Linked DNA regions of Homo sapiens: region 1 is linked to region 2. The links come from fine-mapping of genetic effects on gene expression. A gene starts in region 2. The other region holds a variant in brackets. All regions are shown on one strand. Distances are between the middles of the regions. Region 1 overlaps JAK3 (Janus kinase 3). Region 2 holds the start of JAK3 (Janus kinase 3).

What was found. PIP is the estimated chance that this variant, and not a neighbour inherited with it, causes the effect.
Region 1: its variant is fine-mapped to the expression of JAK3 in whole blood (INTERVAL, PIP above 0.99).

What each region holds. Positions count from the first base shown.
Region 1 is chr19:17,821,184-17,831,453 of GRCh38, reverse strand. JAK3 (Janus kinase 3) reads left to right here. Exons shown (of 24, transcript NM_000215.4): 21 at 54-226; 22 at 834-951; 23 at 1,236-1,346; 24 at 4,544-6,672. The coding sequence ends at 4,711. INSL3 (insulin like 3) reads left to right here and starts at 9,935. Exons shown (of 2, transcript NM_005543.4): 1 at 9,935-10,137. The coding sequence starts at 9,948. RefSeq lists an enhancer at 1-400 and a silencer at 372-421. The variant A/G (reference allele first, on the strand shown) is at 3,771.
Region 2 is chr19:17,843,666-17,857,560 of GRCh38, reverse strand. It overlaps JAK3 (Janus kinase 3), which reads left to right and starts at 9,579. Exons shown (of 24, transcript NM_000215.4): 1 at 9,579-9,615; 2 at 13,131-13,327; 3 at 13,661-13,784. The coding sequence starts at 13,144.

The DNA of each region.
Region 1 (10,270 bases), 24 kb after region 2:
CCTGCCGGATTATCCTGGGATCCTCTCTGCACGCTCACACCGCCCGCCCGCAGGGCATGGAGTACCTGGGCTCCCGCCGCTGCGTGCACCGCGACCTGGCCGCCCGAAACATCCTCGTGGAGAGCGAGGCACACGTCAAGATCGCTGACTTCGGCCTAGCTAAGCTGCTGCCGCTTGACAAAGACTACTACGTGGTCCGCGAGCCAGGCCAGAGCCCCATTTTCTGGTGGGGAACCCGCGCCTAGGCTCCGCCCCTATTCCCCACGGCTCTGGCTCCGCCCCCAGCCATGCCCCCGCCCCCTCCCGCTGCTTTGCTCCCCAGCCTTAGCCCCGCCCTTCCTCCGCTGCAGCTTTGGCCCCTCCCACTCCCCAGAGCCCCGCCCCCTCAACAGCACTGGCTCCTCTGTCTCCCGCTGCCCTGCTGTCAGCGGCCCCCAGCCTTAGCCCCGCCCTTCTCTCAGCTCTCGCCCCGCCCAAGCTTCAGAACCCCACCCCTCCAACACGCTGGCTCCGCCCCTCAGGGCTGGCCCCCTCTTAGTTCCGCCCTTCCCCCCGCCCAGTTCTGGCCCCTCCCCCTCCCACGGCTCTGGCCCCGCCCCCATCTCCGCCCCTCCGTGCTGCCCCCGCCTCCTCCCCACAGCCTTAGCTCTTCCCAGGCACCTCCCAGGGCTGGAGAATCCACCTATCCCACAGCCAGGGAAACCGAGACCCTGGAGACGGGACTGACCTGCTCACAGTCCCCACCTACCCTGACCAGTTCCCCATTCCAAGGCTGCCCCCCTCTTCCTGTCCTTTCTACACCCTCGCATCTCAAGACCTTGTCCCCTCTCCAGGTATGCCCCCGAATCCCTCTCGGACAACATCTTCTCTCGCCAGTCAGACGTCTGGAGCTTCGGGGTCGTCCTGTACGAGCTCTTCACCTACTGCGACAAAAGCTGCAGCCCCTCGGCCGTGAGTCGGCTTCCCAGAGCCCCCAGCCTTCTTCTCCCTCCACGCCCCTCGTGGCCAATCTCCAACCTGTCTGCGCCTGCGTCCCTCTTTAGCATGGGGTCACCTGGTCCCAGCATCATAGGCCCCAGTGGGGAGGACGCTTCCTCACCTTTCTGACCCCTTCACGGTTCAGGCAGCCCCTCCCCGCTCCATCACAGATGGCCCCTACCCCCACCACGGGTGGCCCCTCCCCCTCCACCCACGGAGGCTCCTCCCCCACCACATGCGCTCCTCCTTGGCTCCAGGAGTTCCTGCGGATGATGGGATGTGAGCGGGATGTCCCCGCCCTCTGCCGCCTCTTGGAACTGCTGGAGGAGGGCCAGAGGCTGCCGGCGCCTCCTGCCTGCCCTGCTGAGGTGAGCGCCGCAGGGCTAGCCTCAGTTTCCCAGTCTGTAGATTGGGCCGGGGTCTCGGGCAAGCCAGCTGGCGCCTGAGTCTCTGTACTGAGAAGAAAGGCTAGAGTGTGAGGCCGATGAGGATCCTGGCCCCCACTTGGCTACTCTCTCACTGTGTGGCAAGTCAGAGCACTTTCAGAGCCTCAGTTTACCCTTTTCCAAAATGAGAATAGTAATGCCTTATAGGGTGAGGGAAGATTAGACTCCTGAACACCTGTGCCTATGAGGGCTCAGCTCAAAGCCGAGCACACAGTCGATGCTCCATAAATGGTGGTGACGTTCATGGTTTTTTTTTTTCTTTCTTTCTTTCTTTTTTATAGATGGGGGCTCACTCTGTTGCCCAGGCTGGGGTGCAATTATAGCTCACTGCAGCCTCCAACTCCTGAGCTCAAGTGATTCCCCTAGTTCAGTGTCTCTAGTAGCAGGAGCTACAGGTGTACACCACCACACTTGGCTAATTTAAAAATAATTTTTTAGAGATGGGAGCCTCACTATATTGCCCAGGCTGGTCTTGAACTCGTGGGCTCAAGCGATTCTCCTGCCTCAGCCTCCCAAAGTGCTGGGACTATAGGTGTACATCACCATGCCTGGCTAATTTAAAAATAATTTTGGCCAGGTGTGGTGGCTCACACCTGTAAACCCAGCACTTTTGAAGGCTGAGGCGGTCAGATCACCGGAGGTCAGGAGTTCGAGACTAGCCTGGCCAACATGGTGACACCCTGTCTCTACTAAAAATACAAAAATTACCCATGTGTGGGTGCCTGTGATCTCAGCTACTTGCGAGGCTGAGGCAGGAGAATTGCTTGAACCTGGGAGGGGAAGGTTTCAGTGAGCCAAGATCATGCCACTGCACTCCAGCCTGGGCGACAGAGCAAGATTCCATCTCAAAATAAATAAATAAATAAATAAACAAACAAATAAGATAAAAATAATTTTTTTAAGAGACAAGGTCTCGCTATGTTGCCCAGGCTGGTCTTGAACTCCTGGGCTCAAGCGATCCTCCTGCCTTGGCCTCCCAAAGTGCTGAGATTTACAGGCATAAGCCACTGTGCCTGGCTAATTTTAAAAAATTTTTTTAAAGAGATGGGGTCTCTCTGTGTTGCCTAGGCTGGTCTTGAGCTCGTGGGGTCAAGTGATCCTCCTGCCTCGGCCTCCCAAAGTGCTGGGATTACAGACGTGAGCCACCACATCCCACCCTCTCATGGTTTATAATCATATAATCATAACCTTTGTGGAAGTGTCTGACATGCAGTTGGTCATTGATAAATTAATTTGCTCAGGCCAAAAACATTTATTGAGTGCCAACTGTGTGCCAGGACTTGTTGGGTGCTGAAGACCCTGTCCTCCCAGTAACTAGCAAAATCTGATAAGAACATTCTAGGCTGGGCACGATGGCTCATGCCTATAATCCCAACACTTTGGGAGGCTGAGGCAGAAGGATCACTGGAGCCCAGGAGTTCAAGACCAGCCTGGGCAACGTAGTGAGACCTTGTCTCTACAAACAATACAAGCAATAGCCGGTGTGGTGACATGCACCTGTGGTTTCAGCTACTAGGGAGGCTGAGGCAGGAGGATCACTGGAACCCAGGAGTTCAAGACCAGCCTGGGCAACATAGTGAGACCTTGTCTCTACAAACAATACAAGCAATAGCCGGTGTGGTGACATGCACCTGTGGTTTCAGCTACCAGGGAGGCTGAGGCAGGAGGATTGCTTGAGCCCAGGAGGTTAAGGCTGCAGTGAGCCATTATTGTACCACTGCACTCCAGCCTGGACAACAGAGTGACACCCTGTCTCAAAACAAAACAAAACAAAACAAAACAAAACAAAACAAAACAAAACAAAGACAAAATTATGGTAGTGATAAGTGCCTTGAAAGAGATGAACAGAGGGAAATGGTGGGGTGGGGGTGGTCAAAGAGGGCCTCTTACGGGGCCGACGCTGGAAGGAGGAGGAGCCTACCCATGAGTAAAGCTAGGAGAAGAAATTTCCAGTGGAGGACACGGAAGGGAAAAAGGCCTTGGGGAGGTAATGAGCTGGGTGCCTTTAAGCACCAGTGCGATGGAGGCAGATGTGACTGCCCGGAACAAATGAGGGAAGGAGGGATGGAGATGAGCGAAGGAGGGCATCAGGGAGAGGTGGTGTTTTTTTGTTGTTTTTTTTTTTTTGAGACGTGGTTTTGCTCTTGTTGGCCAGGCTGGAGTGCAATGGCGCAATCTCGGCTCACCACAACTTCCGCCTCCCAGGTTCAAGCAATTCTCCTGCCTTAGACTCCCGAGTAGCTGGGATTACAGGCACACGCCACCTGTAATTTTTTTTTTTTTTTTTTTTTTTTTTTTTTTTTTTTTTTTTTAGTTAAGATGGGGTTTCTCCATGTTGGTCAGGGT[A/G]GTCTCGAAAGGAGAAGTGTGTTGTAAAATCCATAAGGGCTGGGCGCGGTGGCTCACACCTGTAATCCCAGCCCTTTAGGAGGCCGAGGTGGGTGGATTACATGAGGTCAGGAGTTCAAGACCAGCCTGACCAACATGGTGAAACCCCGTCTCTACTAAAAATACAGACTTAGCCAGGTGTGGCGGTGTGTGCATGTAATCCCAGCTACTTGGGAGGCTGAGGCAGGAGAATCGCTTGAACCCAGGAGGCAGGGTTTGCAGTGAGCCGAGATCGCACCACTGCATTCCAGCCTGGGCAACAAGAGCGAAACTTTATCTCAAATAAATAAATAAGTAAGATCCATAGGGAGCCATGGGAGTTTTTGGAGCAGAGATGGGATGGAATTTAATTTGTGTTTTAAAACTGAATGAGTGCGGTGGCTCATGCCTATAATCCCAGCACTTTGGGAGGCCAAGACAGGTGGATCACCTGAGATCAGGAATTTGAGACCAACCTGGCCAACATGGTGAAACCCTGTCTCTACTCAAAATACAAAATTAGCCAGGCGTGGTGGCACGTGCCTATAATCCCAGCTACTCAGGAGGCTGAGGCAGGATAATTGCTTGAACCCGGGAGGCGGAGGTTGCAGTGAGCCGAGATCATGCCATTGCACTCCAGCCTGGACAACAGAGCTAGACTCCGTCTCAAAAAAACAAAAACAAATACGCTGAATGGGAGTTGTGTCCTTTGGACTGCTCAGGCACGACCCCATTATCTGTCCCCCGCCCCTCAGGTTCACGAGCTCATGAAGCTGTGCTGGGCCCCTAGCCCACAGGACCGGCCATCATTCAGCGCCCTGGGCCCCCAGCTGGACATGCTGTGGAGCGGAAGCCGGGGGTGTGAGACTCATGCCTTCACTGCTCACCCAGAGGGCAAACACCACTCCCTGTCCTTTTCATAGCTCCTGCCCGCAGACCTCTGGATTAGGTCTCTGTTGACTGGCTGTGTGACCTTAGGCCCGGAGCTGCCCCTCTCTGGGCCTCAGAGGCCTTATGAGGGTCCTCTACTTCAGGAACACCCCCATGACATTGCATTTGGGGGGGCTCCCGTGGCCTGTAGAATAGCCTGTGGCCTTTGCAATTTGTTAAGGTTCAAGACAGATGGGCATATGTGTCAGTGGGGCTCTCTGAGTCCTGGCCCAAAGAAGCAAGGAACCAAATTTAAGACTCTCGCATCTTCCCAACCCCTTAAGCCCTGGCCCCCTGAGTTTCCTTTTCTGTCTCTCTCTTTTTATTTTTTTTATTTTTATTTTTATTTTTGAGACAGAGCCTCGCTCTGTTACCCAGGGTGGAGTGCAGTGGTGCGATCTCGGCTCAGTGCAACCTCTGCTTCCCAGGTTCAAGCGATTCTCCTGCCTCAGCCTCCCGAGTAGCTGGGATTACAGGTGTGCACCACCACACCCGGCTAATTTTTTTTATTTTTAATAGAGATGAGGTTTCACCATGATGGCCAGGCTGATCTCGAACTCCTAACCTCAAGTGATCCTCCCACCTCAGCCTCCCAAAGTGTTGGAATAATAGGCATGAGCCACTGCACCCAGGCTTTTTTTTTTTTAAATTTATTATTATTATTTTTAAGAGACAGGATCTTGCTACGTTGCCCAGGCTGGTCTTGAACTCCTGGGCTACAGTGATCCTCCTGCCTTATCCTCCTAAATAGCTGGGACTACAGCACCTAGTTTTGAGTTTCCTGTCTTATTTCCAATGGGGACATTCATGTAGCTTTTTTTTTTTTTTTTTTTTTGAGACGGAGTCTCGCTCTGTCGCCCAGGCTGGAGTACAGTGGCGCAATCTAGGCTCACTGCAAGCTCCGCCTCCTGGGTTCACACCATTCTCTCGCCTCAGCCTCCCAAGTAGCTGGGACTACAGGCGCCCGCCACCACACCCGGCTAATTTTTTGTATTTTTAGTAGAGACGGGGTTTCACCTTGTTAGCCAGGATGGTTTCCATCTCCTGACCTCGTGATCTGCCCGTCTCGGCCTCCCAAAGTGCTGGGATTACAGGCATGAGCCACTGCGCCCGGCCCTCATGTAGCTTTAAATGTATGATCTGACTTCTGCTCCCCGATCTCTGTTTCTCTGGAGGAAGCCAAGGACAAGAGCAGTTGCTGTGGCTGGGACTCTGCCTTTTAGGGGAGCCCGTGTATCTCTTTGGGATCCTGAAAGGGGGCAGGAAAGGCTGGGGTCCCAGTCCACCCTAATGGTATCTGAGTGTCCTAGGGCTTCAGTTTTCCCACCTGTCCAATGGGACCCTTTCTGTCCTCACCCTACAAGGGGCACAAAGGGATGACACCAAACCTGGCAGGAACTTTTCACGCAATCAAGGGAAGGAAAGGCATTCCTGGCAGAGGGAACAGCATGCCAAGCGTGAGAAGGCTCAGAGTAAGGAGGTTAAGAGCCCAAGTATTGGAGCCTACAGTTTTGCCCCTTCCATGCAGTGTGACAGTGGGCAAGTTCCTTTCCCTCTCTGGGTCTCAGTTCTGTCCCCTGCAAAATGGTCAGAGCTTACCCCTTGGCTGTGCAGGGTCAACTTTCTGACTGGTGAGAGGGATTCTCATGCAGGTTAAGCTTCTGCTGCTCCTCCTCACCTGCAAAGCTTTTCTGCCACTTTTGCCTCCTTGGAAAACTCTTATCCATCTCTCAAAACTCCAGCTACCACATCCTTGCAGCCTTCCCTCATATACCCCCACTACTACTGTAGCCCTGTCCTTCCCTCCAGCCCCACTCTGGCCCTGGGGCTGGGGAAGTGTCTGTGTCCAGCTGTCTCCCCTGACCTCAGGGTTCCTTGGGGGCTGGGCTGAGGCCTCAGTACAGAGGGGGCTCTGGAAATGTTTGTTGACTGAATAAAGGAATTCAGTGGAAAAGATTTTGTGCTGGACTTGGGGCGATGGGGAGCCTCAGAGGGTGTGTGAGCTGGGAGGGATGCGGTTAGAGCTGTGGGCCAGAGACCTCTCAGGGAGCCACTGTGGGGGCCCCAGGGCAGGCTGGTGGAGGAGGACCACTGGGTGGGGCTTGGCTGGGGCCCTCAAGGACAGAGCCCCCTCACTCCCAGCCCCAGCTGCTGGCCTTGGCTGCAGCCTGGGGGAGCTGATTACAGGCTCTCTGTGGGTGGGGAAGGAACAGGATGCTCTCCCGGTGGTCAGAGGACAAGGCCAGGTTGGGGGAGCGAGGCTGTGGGGAGGGGACCAGCATCACTGGGGCCGGACCACCTCCCCACCGACCGGCCCCCGTCATGTGCACCTCATAACTGCTAGAAAGATGTGGAGAGTGGCCAGGCTCAGTGGCTCACGTCTGTAATCCCAGCACTTTAAGAGGCCAAGGCAGGAGGATCACTTGAGGTCAGGAGTATGAGATCAGCCTGGCCAACATGGCGAAACCGTCTCTATTAAAAATACAAAAATTAGCCTGGTGTTCTGGCACATGCCTGTAATCCCAGCTACTCAGGAGGCTGAGACAGAAGAATTGCTTGAAACTGGGATGTGGAGGTTGCAGTGAGCTGAGATCATGCCATTGCACTCCAGCCTGGGCGACAGAGCGACTCCGTTTCAAAAAAAAGAAAAATGCGGACAGAGACAGACATACAGAAGGAAACTGAGAGATGAAGGCCGAGAGAGACTCAGAGAGAGAGAGAGAGAGAGATCCCTGTCCCTGCTCTCTTAGCCCCAGAGGGCCCCCTAATTTGGTAGAAATAGGGAGGGAGCTGCTCTGGGGTCAAGCAAGACTCGAGTTCCAGCCCAGGTTCTCTCCTGCCTAGGGTCAAGCATCCTTCCCTCTCTCAACCTCAGATTCCCTCCTTGGAAAAACAAAGCTATAAGACCCCCTAGGCATGAAGCGGGGGCCAAGCATCCACTGAACAAATAAATCCTGCTCTATTCTGGGTCCACCAGCCCCTGCTCACCCAGAGGGGACAACCGTGTTGGGGAGACAGAGCTTCGGATGGGACACCCCCAGCCCTGCGTGTCAGGCGCCTTGAGAAGACCTGGGCTCTGCTCAGCCTCCTGTGACCTTGGGCAAGTTTGGGGTCCTTTCTCTGTGCCTCAGTTTTCTTTTTTTCTTTTCTTTTCTTTCTTTTTGTCTGGTGAGGGGACGGAGTCTCTGTCCCCAGGCTGGTGTGCAGCGGCACCATCTCGGCTCACTGCAATCTCCACCTCCTGGGTTCAAGTGATTCTCCTGCCTCAGCCTCCCGAGTAGCTGGGATTATAGGCATGCACCACCACATCTGGCTAATTTTTGTATTTTTAGTAGAGACAGAGTTTCACCATATTGGGCAGGCTGGTCTCGAACTCTTGACCTCAAGTGATCCACCTGCCCCATCTTCCCAAAGTGCTTGCATTACAGGCATGAGCCACTGCACCTGGCCTGTGTGCCTCAGTTTTCTCATTTGTACAGTAATAGAAACAACAAAATTCTGAACATTTCTGGTCTTGGAAGATGCCCGCTGTCTTCCCCCCTGCCCCCCAGAAAAGGCAGGATTATTACTTTTCAGTTGATCTATTTCATCTCTTTAAACTGGTTAAGACAATAGCGAAGACTTGGCCGTGTGTGGTGCCTCACACCTGTAATCCCAGCATTTTGGAAGGCCGAGTAGGGAGAACCACTTGAGTTCTAGATGAGCCTGGGCAACATAGCAAGACCCCTGCCTCTACAATTAAAAAATTAAAAATGGCCGGGCGCGTTGGTGCACGCCTGTAATCCCAGCACTTTGGGAGGCCGAGGCGGGTGGATCACTTGAGGTCAGGAGTTTGAGATCAGCCTGGCCAACATGGTGAAACCCCGTCTCTGCTAAAAAATACAAAAATTAGCCAGGCTTGGTGGTGGGCACCTGTAATCCCAGCTACTCAGGAGGCTGAGGCAGGAGAATCGCTTGAACCCAGGAAGCAAAGGTTGCAGTGAGTCGAGATCGCACCACTGTACTCCAGCCTGGGTGACAGAGTAAGACTCTGTCTAAAAAGATAAAAATAAAAATTAAAAAATTAAAAATTAGCTGGGCATTGTATTGCAGGCCTGTAGTCCCAGCTACTCAGGAGGCAGAGGCTGAAGGATCGCTTGAGCCCAGGGGAATGAGGTTACAGTGAGCTATGATCCTGCCATTACAGGCCAACCCAGAGAGATCCTATGTCAAAAATGAATAAATACCCTGGTGTGGTCGCTCTCGCCTGTGATCCCAGGACTTTGGGAGGCTGAGGCGGGAAGATGACTTGAGTCCAGGAGTTTGAGACCAGCCTGGGCAACATGGCAAAACCCCATCTCTACAAAAAAAATACAAAAAATTAGCCGGGTGTGGTGGCGTGGGCCTGTAGTCCCAGCTACTCAGGAGGCTGAGGTGGGAGAATTGCTTGAGTCAGGGATAGGGAGGTGGCAGTGAGCCCATATCGTGCCACTGCACTCCAGCCAGGGTAACAGAGCAAGAACTCATCTCAAAAATAAAAAATAAAAATAGGTGGCTGGGCGTGGTGGCTTACACCTGTAATCCCAGCTACTTGGGAGGCTGAGGTGGGAGAATCACTTGAACCCAGGAGGTGGAGGTTGCAGTGAGCCGAGATCGCATCACTGCACTCCAGCCTGGAAGACAGAGCAAGACTTTGTCTCAATAATAATAATAAAAATAATAATAGTCCAGGCACAGCTCATGCCTGTAATCCCAGCATTTTGGGAGGCCGAGGCAGATGGATCGCTTGAGGTCAGGAGTTGGAGACCAGCCTGGCCAACATGGCGAACCCCAGTCTCTACTAAAAATAAAAAATAAAAAAAAAAAAATTAGCCAGGCATAGTGGTGCGCACCTGTAATCCCAGCTACTCAGGAGGCTGAGGCAGGAGAATCGCTTGAACCCGGGTGTCAGAAGTTGCAGTGAGCCGAGATCAAGTCACTGCACTCCAACCTGGGTGACAGAGTGAGACTCCATCTCAAAAAAAAAGAAGAAAAAAATAAAAAAGAAAGACTCGTTGCCCAGTGCTCCCTCTGGGAGAAGTACATCCAAGGCCCTGGCCCTGGGAGAAAGGCTCTGGCACTAACCCCACCCTTGACCTTTTTCCTGGGCGGTCCTGAAGAATGTTCTGTCCCTTCTCCAAGGCCCCCAGCTGGGACGGCCCAGGCGCCTATAAAGGGGGTCCCCGCTTGGCCCCGGCGCCACCCACCACCATGGACCCCCGTCTGCCCGCCTGGGCGCTGGTGCTGCTGGGCCCTGCCCTGGTGTTCGCGTTGGGCCCCGCGCCCACCCCAGAGATGCGTGAGAAGTTGTGCGGCCACCACTTCGTACGCGCGCTAGTGCGCGTGTGCGGGGGCCCCCGCTGGTCCACCGAAGCCAGGAGGCCTGCGACCGGAGGCGACCGTGAGTGGGGACGGGCAGGGACAGCGCTCTGGGAAGCCGAGGTGGGGCAGGTGCACGTAGGCGCAGATGCACACGTGCAGGGAGGTGGGCAGGTTTGCATGCATGTGCCCAGGGCTCACCTGCCGGCTGCGTG
Region 2 (13,895 bases):
CAGCCTCCCAAAGTGCTGGGATTGCAGGCATGAGCCACCGGGCCCGGCCAATATATAGTTTTGTACAATTGCTTTTTAAATATGTTAAGAGGCAAAGAGAGAAGAAATTTGCATTTATGCTACATTTTATTTTTATTTATTTATTTTGAGACAGGGTCTCACTCCATTACCCAGGCTGGAGGGCAGTGGTGCAATCTTGGCTCATTGCAACCTCTGCCTCCCAGGTTCAAATGATTCTCCTGCCTCAGCCTCCCAAGTAGCTGAAATTGCAGATGTGCGGCACCATGCCTGGCTAATTTTTTTTTTAATTTTTAGTAGAGACAAGAGTTTCGCCATGTTGGCTATGGCTGGTCTTGAACTCCTGACCTCAAGTGGTCTGCCCGTCATGGCCTCCGAACATGCTGGGATAACAGGCATGAGCCACTGTCACTGGCAGATCTTATTTTTATTTATTTATTATTATTATTTTTTGAGACGGAGTCTCACTCTGTCACCCAGGCTGGAGTGCAGTGGCGTGATCTCAGTTCACTGCAATCTCCGCCTCCCGGGTTCATGCCATTCTCCTGCCTCAGCCCCCTCGAGTAGCTGGGACTACAGGTGCCCGCCACCATGCCCGGCTAATTTTTTGTATTTTTAGTAGAGATGGGGTTTCACCATGTTAGCCACGATGGTCTCAATCTCCTGACCTCGTGATCTGCCTGCCTCGGCCTCCCAAAGTGCTGGGATCATGGGCGTGAGCCATTGTGCCCAGCCTTATTTTTTTGATACAGGATCTCACTCTGTTGCCCAGGCTGGAGTGCAGTGGCGAGATCTCTGTTCACTGCAGCCTCGAACTCCCAGGTTCAAGAGATTCTCCCACCTCAGACCTCCCGAGTAGTTAGGACGGATGCCATGAAACCCAGCTAAGTTTTATATTTTTTTCCTTAAACTCCTGACCTCGTGATCCACCCGCCTCGGCCTCCCAAAGTGCTGGGATTACAGGTGTGAGCCACCGTGCCCGGCCAAGTTTTGTATTTTTTGTAGAGACAAGGTCTCTCTGTGTTGCCCAGGCTGGTCTTGAACTCCTAGGCTCAATTGATCTGCCCACCTCAGCCTCCTGAAGTGTTGGGATTACAGGCGTGAGCCAAAGCACCCGGCCTTATGCAATCTTTTAAAATTACATACATTACCTTTATATGTGTTCTTCAGATTTTCACGTGGATTGGAATACATGTCTGGGGTCCCTTGTTTTCAGCCTAAAGAATTTATTTTGGGTGGGTACGGTGGCTCTCGCCTGTAATCCCAGCACCTTGCGAGGCCCAGGTGGGTGGATCACCTGAGGTCAGGAGCTCGAGACCAGCCTGGCCAACATGGTGAAACCCCGCTTCTATTAAAAAATACAAAAATTAGCTGGGTATTGTGGCGGGTGCCTGTAGTCCCAGCTACTTGAGAGGCTGAGGCATGAGAATCGCTTGAGCCTGGGAGTCGGAGGTTGCAGTGAGCCGAGATTGTGCCACTGTACTCCAGCCTGGGCAACAGAGTGAGACTCTGTCTCGAAAAAATATACATTTTTTTAGTATTTCTTGTGAGGTGGGCAAATTAACTTTTGCACTAAAATCTTTAGCCCAACTGTAGCACAGGTGGTTAGTTACCCAGTCCCTTCCTGGTGGACACTTAGACTGTGAAAATTCGGAAAACTGATGGGCGTGATGCGGGGCAGGGAGGCCAGGGGAGCAGGTCAGCCCTCCTCTGGCTGGGCTTTTCGGGGCAGGACGTCAGGTGAGAGGCGGCTCTATCCCAACAGCGCTGCCGCGAGTGTCCACCAGGTGGCAGCAGAACCATGTCCCATCTGCGGTGGCCCAGCTGAGGCCAAGCGCTAGACCGTTGAATGATACACAACCAGGTTCAAATCTTACCGATGGTTCGCTGGCCGCGTTGCCGCTCTGGGCCTCAGTTTCCCCTTCCACAAAATGAGGCCAATAATAGTCGCCAGCTTTTAGGGTTGTTGTGAGATTTAAATGGCGTATGATTGTTTGGACTGGGAAGGTTGAGGCCCTGCCCTTCCCTCTGTGCTGGAACTCACCGCTCTGGCCTCAGTTTCCCCAAAGTGCTGAGCGGCTACAAGCAGGTGGAAAGAGATGCTGGAAAGGGCAGAGCGCAGCCTGGAGCACAAATTGGATCCTGGGACAGCAGGAACGGGGCAGGAAAAGGAATTTAGGGAGGACAGGGGAGGAGGAAGAAGACGAGAGGGAGATCCCTGAGACCCAGCCCTGGCCTTGGGGCCTCGTGCTTCTGCCTTCAAGGCCTGGGTTGGAGTGGAGGGAGGGGCATGCCAGGGTGGGGAAGGGCACGGGTCGTGATGTGCTGTTTGTTTCAAAGCTTTATTATTTTTCTTTAGTTTCTTTTTTTTTTTGAGATGGAGTCTCACTCTGTTCCCCAGGCTGGAATGCAATGGCGTGATCTCATCTCACCGTAGCCTCTGCCTCCCAGGTTCAAGCGATTCTCCTGCCTCACCCTCCAGAGTAGCTGGGATTACAGGCACCCATCATCATGCCTGGCTAATTTTTGTAGAGACAGGGTTTCTTGTTTCCTTTTTTTTTTTTTTTTTGAGACGGAGTCTCACTCCATTGCCAAGGCTGGAATGCAGTGGCACAATCTCAGCTCACTGCAGCCTCTGCCTCCTGGGTTCAAGCCATCCTCTCCTGCCTCAGCCTCCTGAGTAGCTGGGATTACAGGCATCTGCCTCCACGCCCGGCTAATTTTTGTAATTTTAGTAGAGACGGGGTTTCACCATGTTGGACAGGCTGGTCTTGAACTCCTGACCTCAGATAATCCACCCACCTCAGCCTCCCAAAATGCTGGGATTACAGGCGTGAGCCACCGCGCCCGGCCCAGAGCTTTATTATTTTTCTTTTTGGTTGGGCACAGTGGCTCATATCTGTAACCCCAGCACTTTGGGAGGCTGAAGCGGGCAGGTCACTTGAGGTCAGGAGTCGAGACCAGCCTGGCCAACATGGTGAAACCCCGTCTCTACCAAAAATACAAAAATTAGCTGGGTGCAGTGACACACACCTGTAATCCCAGCTACTCGGGAGGCTGAGGCACGAGAATCACTTGAACCCTAGAGGCAGAGGTTGCAGTGAACCAAGATCATGCCGCTGCACTCCAGCCTGGGCAACAGAGTGAAACTGTCTTAATTTAAAAGAAAAAAAAAAGCTTTATTATTTTTCTTTCTTTTACATGTTGTCGGTGCCTGAGTGATGCCGTGGCCCCGGCTTCCTAGTGACACACCTGGCCTGGCAGGATTCCTCTGCCCCCACCTCGGGCCATGCAGGAATCTGACCTGAGCAGGCTGGTCCTGGGCTACTCTGTGTCTCTGTTATCACCATCCAGTGGGGCCCAGGCGAGGAGTTCCTGGTTAGCAGGGCTGTCCAAGGGCACCCCTGTCCCCCCTGTCTTTTTCCCAGGGACTTTGAAGGCACCAGTTTGTTCATCCAGGATCCTGGGCCAAGCCACAGCTTGGATCACGGAGCGTTCACAATGCTGATGTGCCTCATCCTTCCCACTCTTTCCCTCATCTCAGTTACTGGCACCAGTGCCTTCCCAAGGCTGGGCCCAAGACACCCAAATCTTGGTTTCTGACCGTTGGTCCTCAAAACACTGCAAAGCCACCCACTTGTATGCACTCCGGACTCCAGGTCCCTGGCCTTCTTTTTTTTTTTTTTTTTTTTTTGAGATGTAGCCTCTTTCCTGTCACGCAACCTTGAGTGCAATGCAGTGGCGCGATCTCAGCTCACTGCAACCTCCACCTCCCGAGTTCAAGCGATTCTCCTTCCTCAGCCTCCAGAGTAGCTGAGATTACAGGCGTGCGCCACCACACCCAGCTAATTTTTGTATTTTTAGCAGAGACGGGGTTTTACCATGTTGGCCAGGCTGGTCTTGAACTCCTGACCTGAGGTGATCCACCCACCTTGGCCTCCCGAAGTGCTAAGATTACAGGCATGAGCCACTGCACCCGGCCTTTTTTTTTTTTTTTTTTTTTTTTGAGACAGAGTTTTGCTCTTGTTGCCTAGGCTGGAGTGCAATGGTGTGATCTCGGCTTACCGCAGCCTCCACCTCCTGGGTTCAAGCGATTCTCCCACCTCAGCCTCCCAAGTAGCTGGAATTACAGGCATGCACCACCACATCCAGCTAATTTTGTTTTGTCAGTGGAGATGGGGTTTCTCCACGTTGATCAGGCTGGCCTCAAACTCCTGACCTGGGACTACAGGTGTGCACCACCATGCCCAGCTAATTTTTGTGTTTTTTTTGGTAGAGGTGGTGTTTCGCCACATTGCCCAGGCTGGTCTCAAACACAAGTTGTTTGTCAGAGACCAGCCTGCAATTCTCCCAGGGTGCTGGGATTACAGGCGTGAGCTACCATGCCCAGCCTAGGGGCCTCTTTTATAAGGGCATTAATCCCATTCATGAGAGCTCAACCCTCATGATCTAATCACCTCTTAAAAGGTTCCGATTCTGAATACCACCGCCTTCGAGGTTAGGATTTCAATGTATTAATTTTGGGGAGACGCAAACTCTCAGACCATCACAGTATTTTATCTTTTTCAGTGCTGCTGCAAAGGAAATTTTTCAAAATTTTTTTATGTTCCAATTGTTTGCTGCTGGTGTATAAAAATTCAATTGACTTTTGTATTGAATTCAACGGACTTTTTAAACCTGGTAACTTGCTGAATTTATGTATTAATTTCAGTAGTTGTCTTATAGATTCCCTTGGGTTTTTGACATAAACAATCATATCATCAGCAAATAGCAACAGTTTTATTTACCTTTTTTTTATTACTTATTTTATTCTGTTTTGCTTGTTACAGAATCTTGCTATGTTGCCTTTAAATTCTTGGGCTCCCATTTCAGCTTCTCCAGTAGCTGAGGCTACAAGCATGTATCACCATGCCCAGCCACACCTGACTTGTTTATTTTTCTCATATATTTTTTTGTTTTAAGACAGGATCTCGCTCTGTTGCCCAGACTGGAGTGTAATGGTGTGATGATGGCTTACTGCAGCCTTGTCCTCCCTGACTCAAGCAATCCTCAGCCTCCCAAATAGCTGGGACAACAGGTGTGAGCTATCACACCCTGCCAATTTTTAATTTTTTTTTTTTTTTTGAGACAGAGTCTCCCTCTGTCACCTAGGCTGGAGTGCAGTGGCGCGATCTTGGCTCACTGCAACCTTCACCTCCCGGGTTCAAGCGATTCTCCTGCCTCAGCCTCCTGAGTAGCTGGGATTACAGGCGCGCATCACCACGCACGGCTAATTTTTGTATTTTTACCATGCCTGGCTAATTTTTGTATTTTTAGTAGAGATGGGGTTTCACCATGTTGATCAGGCTGGTCTTGAACTCCTGACCTTGTGATTCTCCCACCTCAGCCTCCCAAAGTGCTGGGATTACAGGCGTGAGCCACCATGCCCAGCTTTTCTTTTCTTTCTTTCTTTTTTTTTTTTTTTAGACGGAGTCTCACTCTGTCACCCAGGCTGGAGTGCAGTGGCCCGATCTTGGCTCACTGCAAGCTCCGCCTCCCTGGTTCACACCATTCTCCTGCCTCAGCCTGCTTTTTCTTTTCTTATTACAGTGGCTAACATCACCAGAACAATGTTGAATAGAGGTGGTGAAAATGGACATCCTTGTCTTGTTTCCAATCTCAGGAGGAAGTTATTCAGTCTTTTACCATTTTTGTTTTTGTTTTTGAGATGTAGTCTCGCTCTGTCGCCCAGGCTGGAGTACAGTGGCACTATCTTGGCTCCCTGCAACCTCTGCCTCCTGGACTCAAGCCATCCTCCCACTTCAGTCTTCCAAGTAGCTGAGACTACAGGTGCACACCACCATGCCTGGCTAATTTTTGTATGTTTTGTAGAGACGGATCTCACCATGTTGCCCAGGCTAATCTCCAACTCCTGAGCTCAAATGATCCTCCCATGTTGACTTCCCAAAGTGCTCAGATTACAGGCATGAGCCACCGTGCCTGGCCCTGCCTCACTGTACTCTTAATTTTCATTTGGCAAGTGAAGCTGAGGAAATTTTTCTGGGTTTAAGAGCTATTTGTCCTCCATTTTCTCTGACTTCTGGATTCATATCCACCTAACTGGTTGGCATTTTCTTACTGCTTTCTAGATGTTACTTATATAACGAGGATATTTTATCCATGAGTTCAATTTTGTTTCCAGTTACACTTTGATTGTATTTTATTCTTTGATTGTATTTATGGACTTCTTGTCAGCAGAAAAATCTGGGTGTTTGCATCACTGACGTGCCCCATTTTTCTCGGGCAAGTTCTGGGTTCTGTCCCCAGAACTTCCTTTTTTTAAAAAAAATTATTTATTTATTTATTTATTTTTTGATACGGAGTCTTGCTGTGTCGCCCAGGCTGGAGTGCAGTTGTGCGATCTCGGCTCACTGCAACCTCCGCCTCCCAGGTTCAAGTGATTCTCTTGCCTCAGCCTCCTGAGTAGCTGGGACTGCAGGCGCCCGCCACCACACCCAGCTGCGTTTTGTATTTTTAGTAGAGATGGGGTTTCACCAGGTTGGCAAGGCCGGTCTCGAACTCCTAACCTCAGGCGATCCGCCCGCCTCGGCCTCCCAAAGTGCTGGGATTATAGGCGTGAGCCACCGCGCCCGGCCAGAACTTCCTTTTAGAGCCTTCACATGCCCTTCTCTGGGGCTGAAGGTACCACTTTGGTCCTCACCCCAATCTCCTCTTACTTATTCTCAAAATATTGCAGAAACCATCACACTGGAGGTAGCAGAGACCCAGAAACTCACTGTACTTCCGGAAAGCAGAGGCTTCAGCCTCAGGCCAAGGATGAGAACATAAGGTTGCATTCCCGTCTGCTGAAGCCACCCAGGAAGTGAAAGAAAACACTACAACTAAGCTTCTGCTTGGCACTTCCTGCCGCAGGTCAGCTGTGGCTCCACTAAGCTCCACTAAGCTGAGGACATAATCTATATCTCTTTCCCTTGACCCACGCGGCCCTACCCACGCCATCAAATGAGTCTCAGCCCCCCGTGTCCCTGACATCCTGCTCTTCTCAGGAACACTGTGAATTCGTGAAGCCTCCAGGCCTTTGCCTGGGCTGTTCTGCCTGCCAGAACTGCCCACACTCCCACATTCTCAGGTCACTCTCTGGCTAGTCCCACTTGTTGTTGGATTTCAGAATCAAAGCCACCTCCTCCAGGAAGCCCTCCCAGATCCAGTCATCTCTCTTAGCAGACCGGTCCCAGGGGCAACTGATATAATTATTGGGCAATAGCTTGTTTATTGCCATCTCCCCTGCTGGACTGTCAGCTCCCCTGGACAGGGATTGGGTCTGCATTGTCCCCGATTCCCTGCACACAGGCTGTGTCCAATAAGCCTCTGGCTGATTGAACAGTTAAGATCAACAAAATACTTACCAAACCATTTTGTGTTAAGACTTGTGATGGTGATACAGAGATGAAAAGTCTTTTTTTTTTTTTTTTTGAGACGGGATCTCACTCCCATTGCCCAGGCTGGAGTGCAGTGGCATGACCACAGCTAACTGCAGCCTCAACTTCCTGGGCTCAGGTGATCCTCCCACCTCAGCCTCCCCTAGTAGCTGGGACTACAGGCACATGCCACCACATCCAGCTTATTATTTTGTTGTTGTTGTATTTTTTGTAGAGACAGGGTTTCACCATGTTGCCCAGGCTGGTCTCGAACACCTGGGCTCAAGCCATCCTCCTGCCTGAGCCTCCCAAAGTGCTGAGATTACAGGTGTGAGCCACTGTTCTTGGCCACAACTTCTTAAATCTATTCCTTTTTTTTTTTTTGAGACAGAGTATTGCTCCGTCGCCCAGGCTGGAGTGCGGTGGCACAATCTCAGCTCACTACAACCTCCGCCTGCCTCCTGGGTTCCAGTGATTCTCCTGCCTCAGCCTCCCAAGTAGCTGGGATTACAGGCACATGCCACCACGCCCAGCTAATTTTTATATTTTTAGTAGAGATGGGGTTTCACCATGTTGGCCAGGCTGGTCTCGAACTCCTAGGCTCAAGCAATCTTCCCACCTGGGCCTTCCAAAGTGCTGGAATTACAGATGTGAGCCACTGTACCCGGTCACCACTTCGTCAGTCTATTCCTGAAGCTCTACTTCCGGGGCTCTGATCCTATTATCCTAAGAACACTGGCCCAAGTCTCTGCATTTGGATGCTGCCCGGGCCTTCTGCCTCTTCTATTTATAACAGCTCCTACTTCCAACTCTCCTGTGGCTCCAGATTATGCTCCAGGCAAAACCCACCCTTCTCCCAAAGACCCTGATCCCCCTGTCCCCCCACGATCTTGCCCCTGTTGACCGCCCTGCAGTCCCCTTCCCCCTCATCTCACCCCTGCCCCTGGCCTCCTGACTGCTCTTCAAGCTGCTAAGATCACTGCCCTCTCAAGGTCTTTGCCCATCCTGTGCCCTCCTCCTGGAGCACCCTTTCCCTGGCCAGCTCCCTGTCCTGCCTCGGGTCCAAGTTCCAGTCTGTGCCTGTCCTGACACCCTGGCTTTCTTTGTTGTCTGCGATGATTTGGCTCCTTCATTTGCTCATTGTCTCAGCGCCAGATCACAAGTTCCAAGAGGCCAGGCCGGATCCACCTGGTTTTTTAGGGCTGGGCCCAGGGCACCACAGGCAGAAATGGGTCATTATCTCTCCCTGAGTCTTTTCTTTTTTTTTTAAACGAAGTCCCGCTCTGTTGCCAGGCTGGAGTGCAGTGGCGCCATCTCGTCTCACTGTAACATCCGCCTCCTAGATTCAAGCAATCCTCCCACCTCAGCCTCCTGAGTAGCTAGGATTACAGGCATCACCAGGCCTGGCTAATTTTCCTGTTTTTAGTAGAGACAGGGTTTCATCATGTTGGCCAGGCTGGTCTCAAACTCCTGACTTCAAGTGATCCGCCCGCCTCAGCCTCCCAAAGTGCTGCGATTACAGGCCACCACGCCTGGCTAATTTTTGTATTTTTAGTAGAGACGGAGTTTCGCCATGTTGGCTAGGCTGGTCTCAAACTCCTGACCTCAAGTAATCGCCCGCCTCAGTCTCCCAAAGTGCTGGGATGACAGGCGTGAGCCACTGCGCCCAGCGTCTCCCTGAGTCTTAAGGGAGAAATACCTCAAAGAAGAACTTGACCTTCCTCTGGGGCAACTTCCCTGCTTCCCTCCTGGGCAAATCCAGCCAGGTTTCCTTCCCTGGGTGCAAAATTAGTTCCACTGGGTGCCCAACTCACACATGCTACAGATGGGTAAACTGAGGCAATAAGGGCCGGGCCAGAGCCCCACTTAACAAGTGGGTCTAGAGTCGGCTGAGCCCCTGGTGTGACCCAGACCCTTCTCTGTGCTATCATCAGTTCCTTTGGCTTAGGGGTCTCCAGCAGCCTGTCTGAACGGGGCGGCTGATGCAGAGGCTTCCGGAACTTTCTGCCCCTCCTTGCCCGCCTCCCCGCCCCCAGCTCCCGCAGGGCCCTGACTTTCGGTAAATGACAGTGGCTCAGGAAACCAAGGGGCCCACACAGGAAGGAGCCGAGTGGGACTTTCCTCTCGCTGCCTCCCGGCTCTGCCCGCCCTTCGAAAGTCCAGGGTCCCTGCCCGCTAGGTAAGAGCTGGCGATGCCGCAGGGCTCGGCCCAGACACTGGGGGAGGATGGTGGTGGCGGGGGATGGCTGGGCTGGGGCAGGGTGCTGCCAGGGCAAAGGCTAGCTCGCCTTCCAGGCCTCGGAGGAAAGCTGCGAGGCAGACGTGAGCCGAGACTCGCATCCTCCGATCGCTCGCTTCTCTGGGCTTCGGCTTTGACTAAGGCCGGGAGATGCCTGCCTTGCGGACCTGGAGGAGTCATTGCGCATGCGCGACGGGGGCTGCGGGGTTGGGGGTGGGGAGGAGGGATTGGGAAGGAGGGATTGGGGGGCGGAGTTCCCAGCCCCTACCCTCCAGGCCTTCCCGGTCCAGACACAGGGTACCCGACCATACCAGGATGCAGAACGTTGAGGATTATAAACAGGGGATGCCGAGGCGGGAGGATAGCTTGAGGCCAGGAGTTCAAGGCCAGCCTGGGCAACATAGCCAGACCTCCATTTCTACAAACATTTTTAAAAAACCAAAAAAACTATGGCGTTTTCTGGGACCAAACATCACCTCTGACTTTTCATTTTTTTTTGTTACAGTATTACAGAATAATAATATTCTGTTAAGATTTTTTTGTTGTTTTGGAGATGGGAGTCTTGCTATGTTGTTCAGGCAGGTCTCTAACCCCTGGCCTCAAGCTATCCTGCTGCCTCAGCCCCCTGAGTAGCTGGGATTGCAGTGGGGCGCCACTGCCACTGAAGCCTTATTTTAAACTCGACTGGGGCTGGGCACAGTGGCTCATGCCTTTAATCCCAACACTTTGGGAGGCTGAGGCCAGCGGATCACTGGAGGTCAGGAGTTCGAGATCAGCCTGGTCAACATGGTGAAACCCTATCTCTACTAAAAACACAAAAATTAGCCAGGTTTGGTGGCGGGTGCCTGTAATTCCAGCTACTCAGGAGGCTGAGGCAGGAGAATCGCTTGAACCTGGGAGGTGGAGTTTGCAGTGAGCCGAGATCATGCCACTGCACTCCAGCCTGGGAGACAGAACAAGAATCCGTCCTCCCCCCTACAAAATAAATAAATAAATAAAAAGGCTGGGCAATGTGGCTCACGTGTGTAATCACAGCACTTTGGGAGGCCAAGGCAGGCGAATCACCTGAGGCCAGGAGTTTGAGACCAGCCTGGCCAACATGGTGAAACTCCGTCTCTACTAAAAATACAAAAATTAGCTGGGCGCTGTGGTGCGCGCCTGTAATCCCAGCCACTTGGGAAGCTGAGGCATGAGAATCGCTTGAACCCAGGAGGCAGAGGCTACAGTGAGCCAAGATCGTGCGACTGCACTCCAGCCTGGGTGACAGTGCGAGACTCCGTCTCAAAAAAACAAACAAACAAACCAAAAAACTTGATTGGCTGATGTTGAGGGGACGATAGAGAGGCTATGGTGTGTGATTTTATTTCTATAAAGGGCAAAACTAGACATCAATCTCTCTGTGGGAGAGATGGGGCTCCTCCAAGGTTCCCGGGACTAGGAATGTGCTCATTCTTGGTCTGGGCATCGGTGACATCAAAGTGTCCCTTTGGTAAGGTTCTTTCCCCCACAAGACTTCCCTTCCCACAGTAACCACCACACCGCTGTGCCAATTGCCCTTCCTGTTTGGTTTAACAGGCGTTTGTTGATCGCTTACCGGCACATCATCAAGAAATATACAAATTAATGCACATTAATTGAGTTGACACTTTAGGCCTGGATTGCGCTCAGCAGACCACCTCAATGAGGATGCTGGGGAGTCAGCCCATTTCACAGCTGCGAAAGCTGAGTCCTAGGGGTCCTAGTCCTCTGATTGTCTTAAACCTCATTAGGCCAGGCGCAGTTTCTCACGCCGGTAATCCCAGCACTTTGGGAGTCCGAGGCAGGAGGATCACTCGAGGTCAGGAGTTCCAGACCAGCCTCGCCAACATGGTGAAACCCCGTCTCTACCAAAAATACAAAAATTAGCCGGGCATGGTGGCGTGCCCCTGTAATCCCAGCTACTTGGGAGGCTGAGGCAGGAGAATCACTTGAACCCAGGATGCAGAGTAAGCCGAGATTGTGCCACTGCACTCCAGCCTGGATGACAGAGCTAGACTCTGTCTCAAAACAAAAACAAAAAAACCCTCATTAATGCCGCCCCACCCCAGCCACAGGGCATTATTTTGGATCATAGTTTTTGTATTGTGTTTTTTTTCTAGAGATAAGGTCTTGCTCTGTCGCCCAGGCTGGAGTGCAGTGGTGTGATCATAGCTCAATGCAGCCTCAACTTGCAGAGCTGAAGGCATCCTCCTGTCTCAGCCTCCCAAGTAGCTAGGACTATGGGGGTGTGCCACCATGCCCTGCTAATTTTTTAGAGATGAGGTCTCAAAATCCTAGCCTCAAGTGATCCACCTGCCTCGGCCTGTCAAAGTGCTGGGATTACAAGGCTTTTTTTTCTTTTTGAGAGGAGGTCTCACTATATTGCCCAGTCTGGTTTCAAACTCCTGGTCTCGGCCAGGCGCGGTGGCTCACACATGTAATCCAGCATTTTGGGAGGCTGAGGCAGGCTGATCACTTGAGGCCAGGAGTTTGAGATCAGTGAAACCCCATCTCTACTAAAAATACAAGAAAATTAGCTGGGCGTGGTGGTGCCCACCTGTAATCCCAGCTACTGGGGTGGCTGAGGCACGAGAATCTCTTGAACTTGGGAGGCGGAGGTTGCAGTGAGCTGAGATTGCGCCACTGCACTCCAGCCTGGGTGACAGCGCGAGACTCTGTCTCAAAAAAGCAAAAAACATAAAACAAACTCCTGGTCTCAAGCTATCCTTCCTTCTTGGCCTCCGGAAATGATGGGATTACAGACATGAGCCACTGCGCCCTGCTGGAACTTAGGTTTTTGTTTGTTTTTCCCAACACTTTCTTCAGATCTTCTTCATTCAGGTCAATTTGAGTGACCTCCTTTTTCTCCCCAATTTTTCTCAGGGGACTCGAAGCCCCACCCCTGGCCCCACCCAGCTGAGGGCCCTGAGTGCTGAGGTTTCTCAGGGCAAGTGAGCGAGCGGGTGGGAGGTGTTGGGGGCTGGAAGCAGGGGGCCAGTTTCCTCCTGGGCCCATCCCAGGGAGGCTTTCCTTCTTTCTTTCTTTCTTTCTTTCTTTTTTTTTTTTTTTTTGAGACAGAGTCTGACTCTGTTGTCCAGGCTGGAGTGCAGTGGTACAATCTTGGCTCACTGCAACCTCTGCCTCCCAGGTTCAAGTGATTGTCCTGCCTCAGCCTCCCGAGTTGCTGGGATTACAGGAACGCACCACCACACCCGGCTAAGTTTTGCACTTTTTAGAGGCAGGGTTTCGCCATGTTGGCCAGGCAGGTCTCAAACTCCTGACCTCAAGTGATCCTCCCGCCTCGGCCTCCCAAAATGCTGTGATTACAGGCATAAGCCACCGCACCCGGCCTCCAGCACTCCTTTCCATGCCCTCCCTGCTCAGAAGTCCAATCCCCTCTGACCAGGACTGAGGGGCTTTTTCTCTCTGTGCCCCAGGCAAGTTGCACTCATGGCACCTCCAAGTGAAGAGACGCCCCTGATCCCTCAGCGTTCATGCAGCCTCTTGTCCACGGAGGCTGGTGCCCTGCATGTGCTGCTGCCCGCTCGGGGCCCCGGGCCCCCCCAGCGCCTATCTTTCTCCTTTGGGGACCACTTGGCTGAGGACCTGTGCGTGCAGGCTGCCAAGGCCAGCGGTGAGTGCATCCCTAGTGGATCGGGCCAGAGGGAAGGATGGGGCTGTGTGGGGCCAAGATTGGAAGCTGGAATAGTTGCCTGCAGAAGTCAGCATCGGAGCTGGGGCTTTGGGGGATGAGTAGGAGTTTTGTAATGGAGAAGGGTGTGCAGGGTTGGCTTCTGAGGCAGAGGGAATGGCCTGTGCAGACGGAGAGGTGTGACGGCACATGAAGGGAACAGCTGGTCATACCTTGAGGTATGGAAGGATCTGGACGGTTGGGTATGATGCTGGCACTCCTGAAGGGCACAGATGGGGTGACTCAGGAGGGAGCTGATGGGACCATCCCCTGTAGGCATCCTGCCTGTGTACCACTCCCTCTTTGCTCTGGCCACGGAGGACCTGTCCTGCTGGTTCCCCCCGAGCCACATCTTCTCCGTGGAGGATGCCAGCACCCAAGTCCTGCTGTACAGGATTCGGTAGGAAGTGCCCCCCAGCCCCCAGGGATTGTACAATTTTATCATCTCCTTGCATTTCGAGGTGCCCACACCCCTGCCCCAGGGAGGTATGGTCACTACCCATTTCTCAGA